Homo sapiens: one gene and its partners. The protein of the gene in region 1 purifies or fractionates together with the protein of each later gene. This does not show direct contact. Each region holds a gene or a part of one and is shown in the gene's direction. Other genes may lie near its edges. The genes, in order: TMEM154, LMBR1 and ARHGEF6.

Region 1 (3,653 bases):
TAGATTCCAAAGAAGTGGGAAATACATGTTTCTCCACTGCTTGAAATTTCAGGACTTCCTAATAACATGGTCATATGGAGGCTTCTTTCTAAGCTTAAGAAAAAAAAGCAAACAGAGCTTTTTAAATTTTTTAAAATTCAGGAAAAGTCATAATTTCCTTCCCCAAACCATGACTGGTTTTACCTAATGGACTCAAGGGGTGGGGGGATGTTGGAGGTATCCACTCACATGGTGAGGCTCTTAGGCTCCAAATCCAGAAATTGATTTTTCATTGAATTTCATTGTGAAAGTCTCAAGGTTCAAAAGCCATTTACAAGCGAGAGCCAGCCTCAACCTCAGACATGGTCCATGCATCCTCCACTCTAACAACACTTGAAGTATTTGCTATTCCCAGAACTTGACTTGACTTTCAGGATGCCTCCATGCCTGGTTGATACCATTTCTTCTGTCTGGAATTTTCTTCCTGTCTGCTTGGCAAACTGCCATCCCTTTTTCCAGGGCCCAGGTCTGTTTTTGTTTTGTTTAAGAGACAGGGCCTTGCTCTGTTACCCCGGCTGGAATGCGGTGGCACAATCATAGCTCACTGCAGCCTCAAACTCCTGGGCTCAAGTGATCCTCCCACCTCAGCCTACAGAGTAGCTGGTACCACAGGCCTGTGCCACCATGCCTGAGTAGTTTTTGACATTTTTAAAAAACGTTTTGTAGAGATGGAGTCTTGCTATGTTGCTCAGGCAAGTCTCAAACTCCTAGGCTCAAGTGATCCTCCCACCTCAGCCTCCCAAAGCACTGGGATTACAGGTGTGAGCCACCACGCCCCCCTGCTAGGGCCCAGTTTTTAGGAAGCCTTGAATAATCCTCCCCTAGGAAAAATTAATTACCATCTCTTCTGTGCTCTCAGAATACTTTGTTCACACTCTTTGTTCACAGTATTCACATTGTCATAAGTTGGTGACTTGTTTCCCTTCCTTCCTTCCTTCTCTTTTTTCTTCTTTTCTTTCTGGGTGATGTGGTCGTTAAGGTCCAGGAGAACCAAGAGCTAGTCTTATTTGTCTTGTGTGACAGTGTGGCATTGAGGTTGAGAGTCCAGACTCAAACCACACACACTGCTTGGTTGGCTTGCACTTCCTGGCACCGTGACTCTCTGATTAAGTTTCTTCATCTGTAAAATGGGCAAATTCAATACCCACCTCATAGAGTTGTGAGAATTAAATGGTTTATATAGGCAAATCACTTAGAAAAAATCAGTACCTGGCATAAGTGCTAAGTGCTAGCTTATTATCATCCCTTTACCTAACTCAACGCCTAGCCCAACACACACTAGCTGCTTGTATATGTTTGTTGAATAAGTGACTTAATTAAAGAACATTAGAATGTTTATTAAAGAACATCTACGCTCAGAGGGAAAGTCAAATTTGTACATTATCCTTACTAAAAATTGGTACATTATTTTTACCTTAAATATGCCTAACTTTAAAAAAAACAACAGAGAAAACTTAGCATTTCAAAACAATTGGCTTATCACAAAAGTTTTTGATGGAGAGTTTTATTTGAATTTTTTTCTCTTATCAGCCAATGCTTTAACACAGACGTGATCACTAACTGCTTAACAGATGGACAACTTTTCAGAAAAACTGAATGCTAAAAGTTAATAAAAGCAGAATATTTACATGAGCAAAATTTGATTTTTTTTCAGGTAAAATACAACTATCATGGAAGGTCATACCAGCGTTTTGCTTGGAAAGCTCCCACAGAAATGCTTTATAGGAGAGCATGGACACCTGCACACTATGTCCCCTGGGAAGTTAGAAGCAGACATACTGTTTCTTACTGCACTTGGGTAGAGCCTGGTCTGTTATACTATACTAGGAAATAAGTCTTTAAATTTGACAATGGGAGAGGACTTGGCCAAAACTTTTAGAACACTTCATCTGATTGGAAATTACTTTTTCCTTTGGGCTTGTCCATTTCATGTTCAGGGAAAGGGAAACATGATGTAGTAACGTGATGTTCTGCTCTCATTCTTCCTAGACCTCCTGGTATGAAATTTGCAGTGTCTTGATGTGTGAGGTCTCTCTGAAAGAGCTGCAGGGAAAACAGCGGGCGATAAACTACCCCTTTAAACAGGCTGTGGCTACATGATGCCTGGCTTACTCAGTAAATCTTCTGGAAAGAGACTCTTTCTCTTGCTCACTGCTCAGCGTGGAAACAAGAAAAGGAAGCCAGAGGCTCCTGTAGCTCCTGCCCTCCCCTAGCCTCCACCAGACAACCCCACTATCGAATGCACAGAGGAGAGGATCTGAGAGGAGAGTACTGTCAGGCTAAGTGGGGGGGAAGTAGGAACTGAAGGAGGAGGACAAAGTGGGTTGGAGGAGATGAAATGGAAGGATTGTTGGAGGGAAAATGGAATAGGGGTTTGAGATGGAGCTTTGTAAGAGCTGCATTTGCCTCCTGGTTGCAAAGGGAATAGGTGGCTATTCATAAATATATATAGGCCAGGTGGAGTGGAGCGGGCAGGGCCTGATTGCTGAGGACAAGTAATTGGTCTTCCTCCTGGTTTAATGCTCTGCTCTTTGTGTGCCCTCCCAGATGTTTTTCTGTTGCCATGGTGGCTGGAGCAGAGGTAATAGCCATGGAGCAGGGAAGATGAGGCCGTAGAAAGCTTTTTGCTCTGTTTTCAAACTGATTACAGGAGCTTCACATTTGGTGCATCTGGAGCACTTTTGTGATGGCTTTTAAAAGTTTTCCTTCATCTGCTTGCAGGCTAGCTTTTGCTCACCCTGAAGCCTGTGGGGAACCCGGATTATAAAGATATATCCATGCCCACAACGGTGGGGCCATGCAGCCACTTGCTGTCTGGGAAAATAGTCAGGGGTTTATTCAGCAGGGGAAAAGGGAGAGGGAGGAGGAGGGAGTGACAAAACAGGAGGAGCTTTACGGGTCACCTGCAGGGATGTTCAATTGTGTAGGAGCTTTATTTATATTAAAATTCCTTAAGGAAATAGCCTTTATATTTTAGATAGAAAGTGTGGGTTTGTGGTGTCTGTGTGTGTGTGTGTGTGTGTGTGTGTGTGTGTGTGTGTGTGTGTATTCTCCTTTCCCCCATCTAAGTTTCTGAGGAGTCAGGCATCTGCAGGAAGCTTTAGATGCCTACTGGAGGGCAGGAGGACATAGCCTGCAGCTCCTGGAAGGCAAGCGGTGATGGCATGAAACTTACATCTGTGCCCAGCTTTCCTGGATTAGCAATGCCATTCAAGCTTGCCAACCCACAGGAAATTACAGCAGCTCACTGCTGCCAGGAACTCAGTTCCAGGTGTCTGCTGGTTGTGTTCCTTCACTGAGGACCTCCATTTCTCCAGGACAGACAATAGGAGGCCTTTAAGTGCCAAGGATCAGAAACCTCTGACTATTTGGTGGGCCCCTACAAAGTGGTTTGCTTTTCAATAGGTTTCACATGATGAATGGTGCAGCAGGCCTATGCTATCCACTCAACATCATTGCCTCATTTCTCTGGATGTGTTGGTTCTCCTGCCAAATGAAACAGGGCTTCAGCTGGGACATCAGGCTCCAATTCTCACCACTTGTTCATTTGGAGTCTGATGTGCATTACAGCCATTTTGTAAACAGTTACCTGACTCTCACCTCAACCAACAGGA
Region 2 (3,653 bases), on another chromosome or scaffold:
CTCTTCTTCTTTTCTCTAAATGCTTTATTGAATTACTCTTCTCATTTAAATTTGCAATCTATTTCGAATTTATTTTTTTGTGTCTGGTGCAAGGTAGGAGTCATATTTTTTTCTCCCACAGGAATGTCCAATTGCTTCAGCACTATTTAGGACTTTTGTCACAGATAGGTAACTGTATATTCATAGGGTTTAATTTTGGACTTTATGTGGTTTTATTGGTCTATTTGTCTTTAGTTTTATTATTTTTTAAAATTTGAGACAGGTTCTCCCTCTGTTGACCAGGCTGTCGTGCAGTGGCGCAATCATGGCTCACTGCAGCCTTGACTTCCAAGGCTCAGGCGATCCTCCCACCTCAGCTTCCCAAGTAGCTGGGACTACAGGCTTGAATCATACAGGTGTGCACTAACAGACCCAGCTAATCTTTTAATTTTTTGTAGAGGTGAGGTCTCACCGTGTTGCCCAGACCTGTCTCCTGGGCTCAAGTGATCCTCCTGCTCTTTGGCTTTACTTTTAATTAATTAGATATTCTAGAATTTGGGTTGAGAAAGGGACACATTGTAAAACAGTCCAGAGCTTCGTCTACTCCCCTGAAAACGGTTTTGGTACCGATTATGGAGTTCTTTAGTTCTGACTCTCCTCACCTGTTTCCCTCAACCCAGTACCCCTGGCTGGTTGAGTCTACTCCATCTTCTACAGAACCAGCGCAGACAGTGACCAGGCTCAGGGTTCCCAGTCTTTGGCATTTCTTTCTCAAATGATTTATATTTAGAGTGAATGTAAATACTTTTTCTCTAAGACCTGTTGCCAATTTTTAAAATTATTCAATTCTTTCTGATTTTGCTACATAATGCTATAATTGCTTAACTTTTTTATCATAATAAGATATATATATATAACATGCAATTTACCATATCTAAATATACAGTTCAGTGGCGTTAAATACATTCACATTGTTGTGCAACCACCACCACTATCCATTTCCAGATCTTTTTCATCAACTGAAACTTGATACCCATGAAACAGTAACTCTCCATTCTTCACTCTCTCCAGCTGCTGGTTCTGCCTATATGAATCTGACTATTCCCAGTTGAACCATACAATATTTGTCCTTTTCTATCTGGCTTATTTCACTTAGCATAATGCCTTCAAAGTTCACCTGTGTTGTAGCATGTGTCAAAATTTCTTTTTCTTTCTTTTTTTTTTTTGAGACAGAGTCTTTCTCTGTTGCCCAGGCTAGAGTGCAGTGGCGTGATCTCGGCTCATTGCAACCTCTCCCTCCCTGGTTCAAGCAATTCTCCTGCCTCAGCCTCCCGAGTAGCTGGGATTACAGGCATGCGCCACCGCACTTGGCTAATTTTTGTATTTTTAGTAGAGATGGGTTTCACCATGTTGGCCAGGCTGGTCTTGAACTCCTGACCCCAGGTGATCCACCTGCCTCAGCCTCCCAAAGTGCTGGGATTACAGGTGTGAGCCACTGTGCCTGGCCTCATTTTTTAATTTTTTGTAGAGATGGGGTTTTTGCTATGTTGCCCAGGCTGTTCTTGAACTCCTGGCCTCAAGTGATGCACCCACCCTGGCCTCCCAAAGTGCTGGGATTACAGGCGGGAGCCAACGTGCCTGGCCCAGAATTTGTTCAGGCTGAATAATATTTTCTTTTTGTGTATACTGTATTTTGCTTACCCATTCATTCATCAATTGACCTGAGTTGTTTCTGTTTTTGGCTATTGTGAATAATGCTGCTGTGATCATGGGTATGCAAATATCTATTAGAGTCCCTGCTTTCAATTCAGAAGTAGAATTGCTGGATCATATGATAATTCTATGTTTAATTTTTTTTTTTTTTTTTTTTGAGACAGAGTCTCGCTGTGTTTCCCAGGCTGGAGTGCAGTGACTCAATCTCGGCTCACTGCAAGCTCCGCCCCCCCGGTTCATGCCATTCTCCTGCCTCAGCCTCCCGAGTAGCTGGGACTACAGGCACCCGCCACCACGCCCAGCTAACTTTTTGTATTTTTAGTAGAGACGGGGTTTCACCATGTTAGCCAGGAAGGTCTTGATCTCCTGACCTCGTGATTCGCCCGCCTCAGCCTCCCAAAGTGCTGGGATTACAGGCGTGAGCCACCACGCCCGGCCTCTATGTTTAATTTTTTTGAGGAACTGCCATACCATTTTCCACAGAGGCTGTACCATTTTATATTCCCACTAGCAAGGAGCCAGAGTTTCTGGTTCTTCCGCATCTTCACCAACACACATTGTTTTCTGTTTTTCTTCTTTTTTTTAAAATGGATGTGAAATGGTATCTGATGCTGGATTTGATTTGCATTTCCCTAATTATAAGTGAAGTTCAGCATTGTTTCATGTGCTTATTGACTATATGGACATCTTCTTTGGAGAAATATCTGTTCTTTGCCTGTTTTTGAATTGAGTTGCTTGATTTTTGTTGTTTAGTTTTAGGAGTTCTTTATATATTCTGAATATTAACCCCTTATCAGACATGTGATTTGCAAACACTTCTCGCCCATTCTGTAGGGTTGCCTTTTTACTCTATTGCTAGTGTCCTTTGATGCACAAAAGTTTTTAATTTTGTAGTCCAATTGATCTATTTTTTCATTTGTTGCCTGTGTTTTTTTGTGTCATATCCAAGAATTCATCACCAACTGGCATCATCACCAACTGGCATCATGAAGGTTTTCCTCTAAGAGTTGTATAGTTTTAGCTCTTAGGTTTAGGTCTGATCCATTTTGAATTAATTTTTTTGTACAATATAGTGTTTAACTTTTTTTTTTTTTTTTTTTTTTGAGATGGAGTCTCACTCTGTCGCCAGGTTGGAGTGCAGTGGCACAATCTCAAGGCTCACTGCAACCTCCGCCTCCCGGGTTCAGGCAATTCTCCTGCCTCAGCCTCCCGAGTAGCTGGGACTACAGGCGAGCGTCACCACACCCAGCTAATTTCTGTACTTTTAGTAGAGACGGGGTTTCACCATGTTGGCCAGAATGGTCTCAATCTCTTGACCTCGTGATCTGCCGCCTCGGCCTCCCAAAGTGCTGGGATTACAGGCGTGAGCCACCGCGCCCAGCCTAGTGTTTAACTTTTAAATACTCATGTAATAATTTTGTCTTTTGTATTATGAATATCTCATAGTTCTCTTGTCAGTTGCTTTAGTGATCATATTTGACTTTGGCTATTAGTATCAGGTAGTAATGATTGATTTCCTTTCTTTTGAGAGCTAGCTATGAAATCCTAAGGCTGCCAGCTAACTGAGTATACCCTCTCTTGGCTAAGGGGACCCCAGGAAACCTTAAAAACTGAATTCCCAACCAGAATGGGATGGGACATCTGACACGCCTCAGTATACCCCCTCCCTTTTGAGGTTTAAACACAGCTGACCAGCATTAATGTTAAAATAGAGATCTGAAGACTGAGAGAACAGACTCTTTGTGGCAATAAAATACCCAACTGTGAACAAAATGTAGGGCCATGCCAGGCAAGGGTTAAGTAAAGCATCCCCTTAAAGAATAAACTGGTTCTAACTGCCTCAAGGTGTTTCTTTTTTTCTAGCGGCTAAACAAGCACTGGCCTCCAGATAAGCAATATTAAGATAACTGCAGCTCACTCACTGCCAGACCCTAAGTGATCCCCACTCTCCTGTTCCACAA
Region 3 (3,653 bases), on another chromosome or scaffold:
ATTATGGTTCTTCTATTTTTTCTTGTATAAATAGGAATGTAAAATGAGTCTTTTTAAAAACCTGTATTTCTTTCTGATTATATTATATAACTTGCCTTGATGGTTTAGTATATTTATTCCTACTATAGGTGCTCTTAAAATATGTGTACAGTGAATTTATTTCTTTGAGTTTCCATGTAGCTGAAAGGGACAGCAGAGATTTTATAGAAAATATAACCCCAAAATATTATCTTACATTCATTTGGAAACAGTAACAGAACTAACCATGTGCTTATTTTTGTATTCAATTTGGAAGGCATGCTGTTAAATTACTCTAAGATAACCTCACAGTTTCTTAAGCAGTGAGATATATATATATATATATATATATATATGTATATATATATGTGTATATATATATATGTGTATATATATATACACATGTGTATATATATATGTGTGTATATATATATATATATGTGTATATATATATATATATATATATATATACACACACATACACACACATATATATAGAAAGAGTATTCATACCCCACATAGTGTTGGCAAACTGTAATTTTTTCTTGGTTTGAAATTTCAGTATGTCATCATGAAATTCAGTTGTATCTCTTTTTTCCAATCCTTTTAGGAATAAAAACTAATTTAGTATTTTTTTCACAGCAATCTTGGTCCTTAAACAAAGTACAGCAGTGCCTAGGTTTCATTATAAGTTTGATTCACTGTGGCATAAAGAATTTAATTTTCTCTTTCACTATAACTCCAGGAGAAATTTTTTGTTTTTTATTATTTTCAAGATGTTACCTTGTTGAAAATTGAGCATATGTTAGAAATACAATTATTTTGTCACTAAAGCCCTATTTATGCAAAGATAGACAAGGTAAGAGGAGCTAAAGCAGGGGCACCAACCAGTAGATCTGAATCTACCAGGTCCTCACCTGGCTCTGGTCAGTGTGATTTGGCTGCTTGCTTTCCCATATTCTTTACAGGGAGGGAGAAATAAGCTCTTTCTAGCATTATGTTTTGATGCTTTGGCAAAATGAAAAATAGGCCTTCCTCACAAAACCTTTGGGGGCTCAAGCCTAGAGATTTAGGGTAGTGGATCTTTCTGTCTATCAAGAACAGGCCTGGGTCATGGGATTCATGATGAGGAATAGGGACTCAGTGGGAACCAAAGAGTCAGAAGCCACATCTTACTTTGGTCTTATTTTAGTCTATTTCATAAGAATTCCTATTCCATTATGTTCTGCTTTGGTTCTGTAGGGGCAATGTCAAGATCTGAGGAAGAGAAAACAGCTGGAGTTACAGATACTGTCCGAACCTATTCAGGCATGGGAAGGAGAAGATATTAAAAACTTGGGAAATGTGATTTTTATGTCACAAGTAATGGTGCAGTATGGAGCATGTGAGGTAAGGTATTTCAAATCTCAACATTATTTCTTCCATCTTTCGTATTTTTCTTCCTTTTTTTTTTTTTTTTTTGACGGAGTCTTGTTCTGTCACTCAGGCTGGAGTGCAGTGGTGCCATCTTGGCTCACTGCAACCTCTGCCTCCTGGGTTCAAGCAATCCTCCTGCCTGAGCCTCTTAAGTAGTTTTTCTTCCTTGTTCTTCCATCAAAGTCAAATGCTACAACATTCAAATCAGAAGCTGAGCACCTGTTCTTTGTTGAACATTCTGCTAGGTGCTGTGGGAGATAGGAGAAAAGAACAAGCAATGATCCCTGTTTTCAAAGAACTCATTAAAAACAGACTAAAACACAAGTTGCAACTAGCTGACAAACCAAATAGTCAATGTTCGATTTTGCAATCTCAACAAGAGTCCATAGAAGTTCACAGGAGGGAGAGATCAAGAAGACCTTACGGAGACAGGACTTGAGGAGGGGGCACAAAAACAAAAGGGGAGGATTTCGCAAGGCAGAGGTCATTGTTATCTTAGGAGAGAACAGAAATGTGGCTTTGGTTTGCTGCAGCACAGTAAGGAAACCAGCCTGTAGGGAGCAAAAGAAGCAACTTGGCCCTAGTAAAAGATTGATTGAGTCAGGTAGAATTAGACTATGCAGAAGCTTGACATCAGGCAAGAGTAGTTCAGATGGATGCAACAGGCCATGGGAAATAATGAAAGAGTCCACAGTCATAGAACAACACTCCGAAAGGGATGTTTCACACTAATCTGCGACCTATATATGTCAAATGAACTGGAGGGAATGGACGAGAAGCAGAAAGGCCAGCTGGGATGGAAAGTGAGAAGGAGTCCCCTAAGACGGTGGTAACACTGGGAATGGAGCAGAAGGAGCAAATTGGAGGCATCTTTAGAAGGGAAAGCCAACAGGAAGTGGTGCCCCTGGGTTAGAGGAGATGAAGAATATAATTTTAGACCTGTAGATATCTGGGTGGAGATGTCCCATAGGCAGCTGTTAATGTAGTATGGAAATGTGAGTGAGAGGTCAGAGTTAGAGGCAGAGACTTAGATGTCCCTAACAGATGTGCCTTCCTAGGAAGTAAATATCCAGAGAGAAGCCCGGGGGGTGGGGGGAGCTGAAGATGGATTATTTCTTTTAGGAAGGAGCCAGGGAAAGGGAGAAAGGTTGATTATGGCACCTGGTTTGATGTATCGGGTGTTAGAATTGTCTTCCTTCTCCCAAAACATCTTCCTACGCTCTCTGACACGTCTTTGGCGGAGATTCATTACTTTGGGTTAATAAGCAATCTCATTTAAAATGCAAATACCCCAGGGAAGGTTACTGCAGTGAGTCTAACTATTAGTCATTCACACCTTTGGGATAAACCCCTTGGGTGAAGGCAGGAGGAATCAGTGCCAGAAAAAATAAAAAGACAAAGAGGAAGGTAGAGAAGAACTGGGGGAGCATGGTGTCATGGAAATTCCACGAGGAGCATTTGAAAATGGCCAGTGTGCTGACTGCTGCTGAAGGTTCAGAGGGCAAGGAATGTGAAGACCAAGAGGAAGCCATTGGATTTTGCTAGAAGGCAGTTACTGATGACTTTCCAAGAGCAATGGGGGTGCAGTTAGGGATGGATCAATGCAGAGAAAATGAAGGCAGCAAGTAATTTGCCAATAAAATGTCAAGAAATGGGATATTATGCATAAAGGGCCACATGGGGGCAAGCCAAGGTCTGTTAGGATAGGAGGTGTACATATGTTAAAGAAAAAGAGGAACAGCTAGTAAAAGAGAAGAGGATGCTGGGAGAAGAAGAGGTGTCTGTAGAGGAAAACTAAGTGAAACAAAGATGTGAGAGAATGTGGAGCACTTGTTAGAATAGTTAGCCTGGAAGGGTTGCTCTTCTCAAATGGAAGGAAGGAGATGGAGACAGGCATAAGGATAATTGTAGCTAAGATGGCTGGGCATGGAAGGCAAACGTAATTTTTGCGTATACTAATTGCATATCTGTTGAAGGGGCTCACAGCAGCCCTCACGTTTCAAGGTTTCCTCAGTGCCATTAAAAAGTGTATGGGAGGCTGAGGTGGGTGGATCACCTGAAGTCGGGAGTTTGAGACCACCCTGACCAACATGGAGAAACCCCATCTCTACTAAAAATACAAAATTAGCCGGGAGTGGTGGCACATGTGTGTAATCCCAGCTACTTGGGAGGCTGAGGCAGGAGAATCGCTTGAACCCGGGAGGTGGAGGTTGTGGTGA

Evidence for each region.
Region 2: the proteins of TMEM154 (region 1) and LMBR1 purify together in Homo sapiens (affinity purification with mass spectrometry; one large-scale study listed by BioGRID and IntAct). This does not show direct contact.
Region 3: the proteins of TMEM154 (region 1) and ARHGEF6 purify together in Homo sapiens (co-immunoprecipitation; 2 studies listed by BioGRID and IntAct, with this or other methods). This does not show direct contact.

What each region holds. Positions count from the first base shown.
Region 1 is NC_000004.12:152,645,368-152,649,020, reverse strand, and holds part of TMEM154 (transmembrane protein 154 precursor), read left to right. Parts: intron 1-1,693; exon of another isoform or gene 1,694-1,837; intron 1,838-2,028; coding exon of another isoform or gene 2,029-2,042; exon of another isoform or gene 2,043-3,653.
Region 2 is NC_000007.14:156,886,606-156,890,258, reverse strand, and holds part of LMBR1 (limb region 1 protein homolog), read left to right. Parts: intron 1-3,653. UniProt on the Homo sapiens protein: Putative membrane receptor.
Region 3 is NC_000023.11:136,683,431-136,687,083, reverse strand, and holds part of ARHGEF6 (rho guanine nucleotide exchange factor 6), read left to right. Parts: intron 1-1,260; coding exon 1,261-1,407; intron 1,408-3,653. UniProt on the Homo sapiens protein: Acts as a RAC1 guanine nucleotide exchange factor (GEF).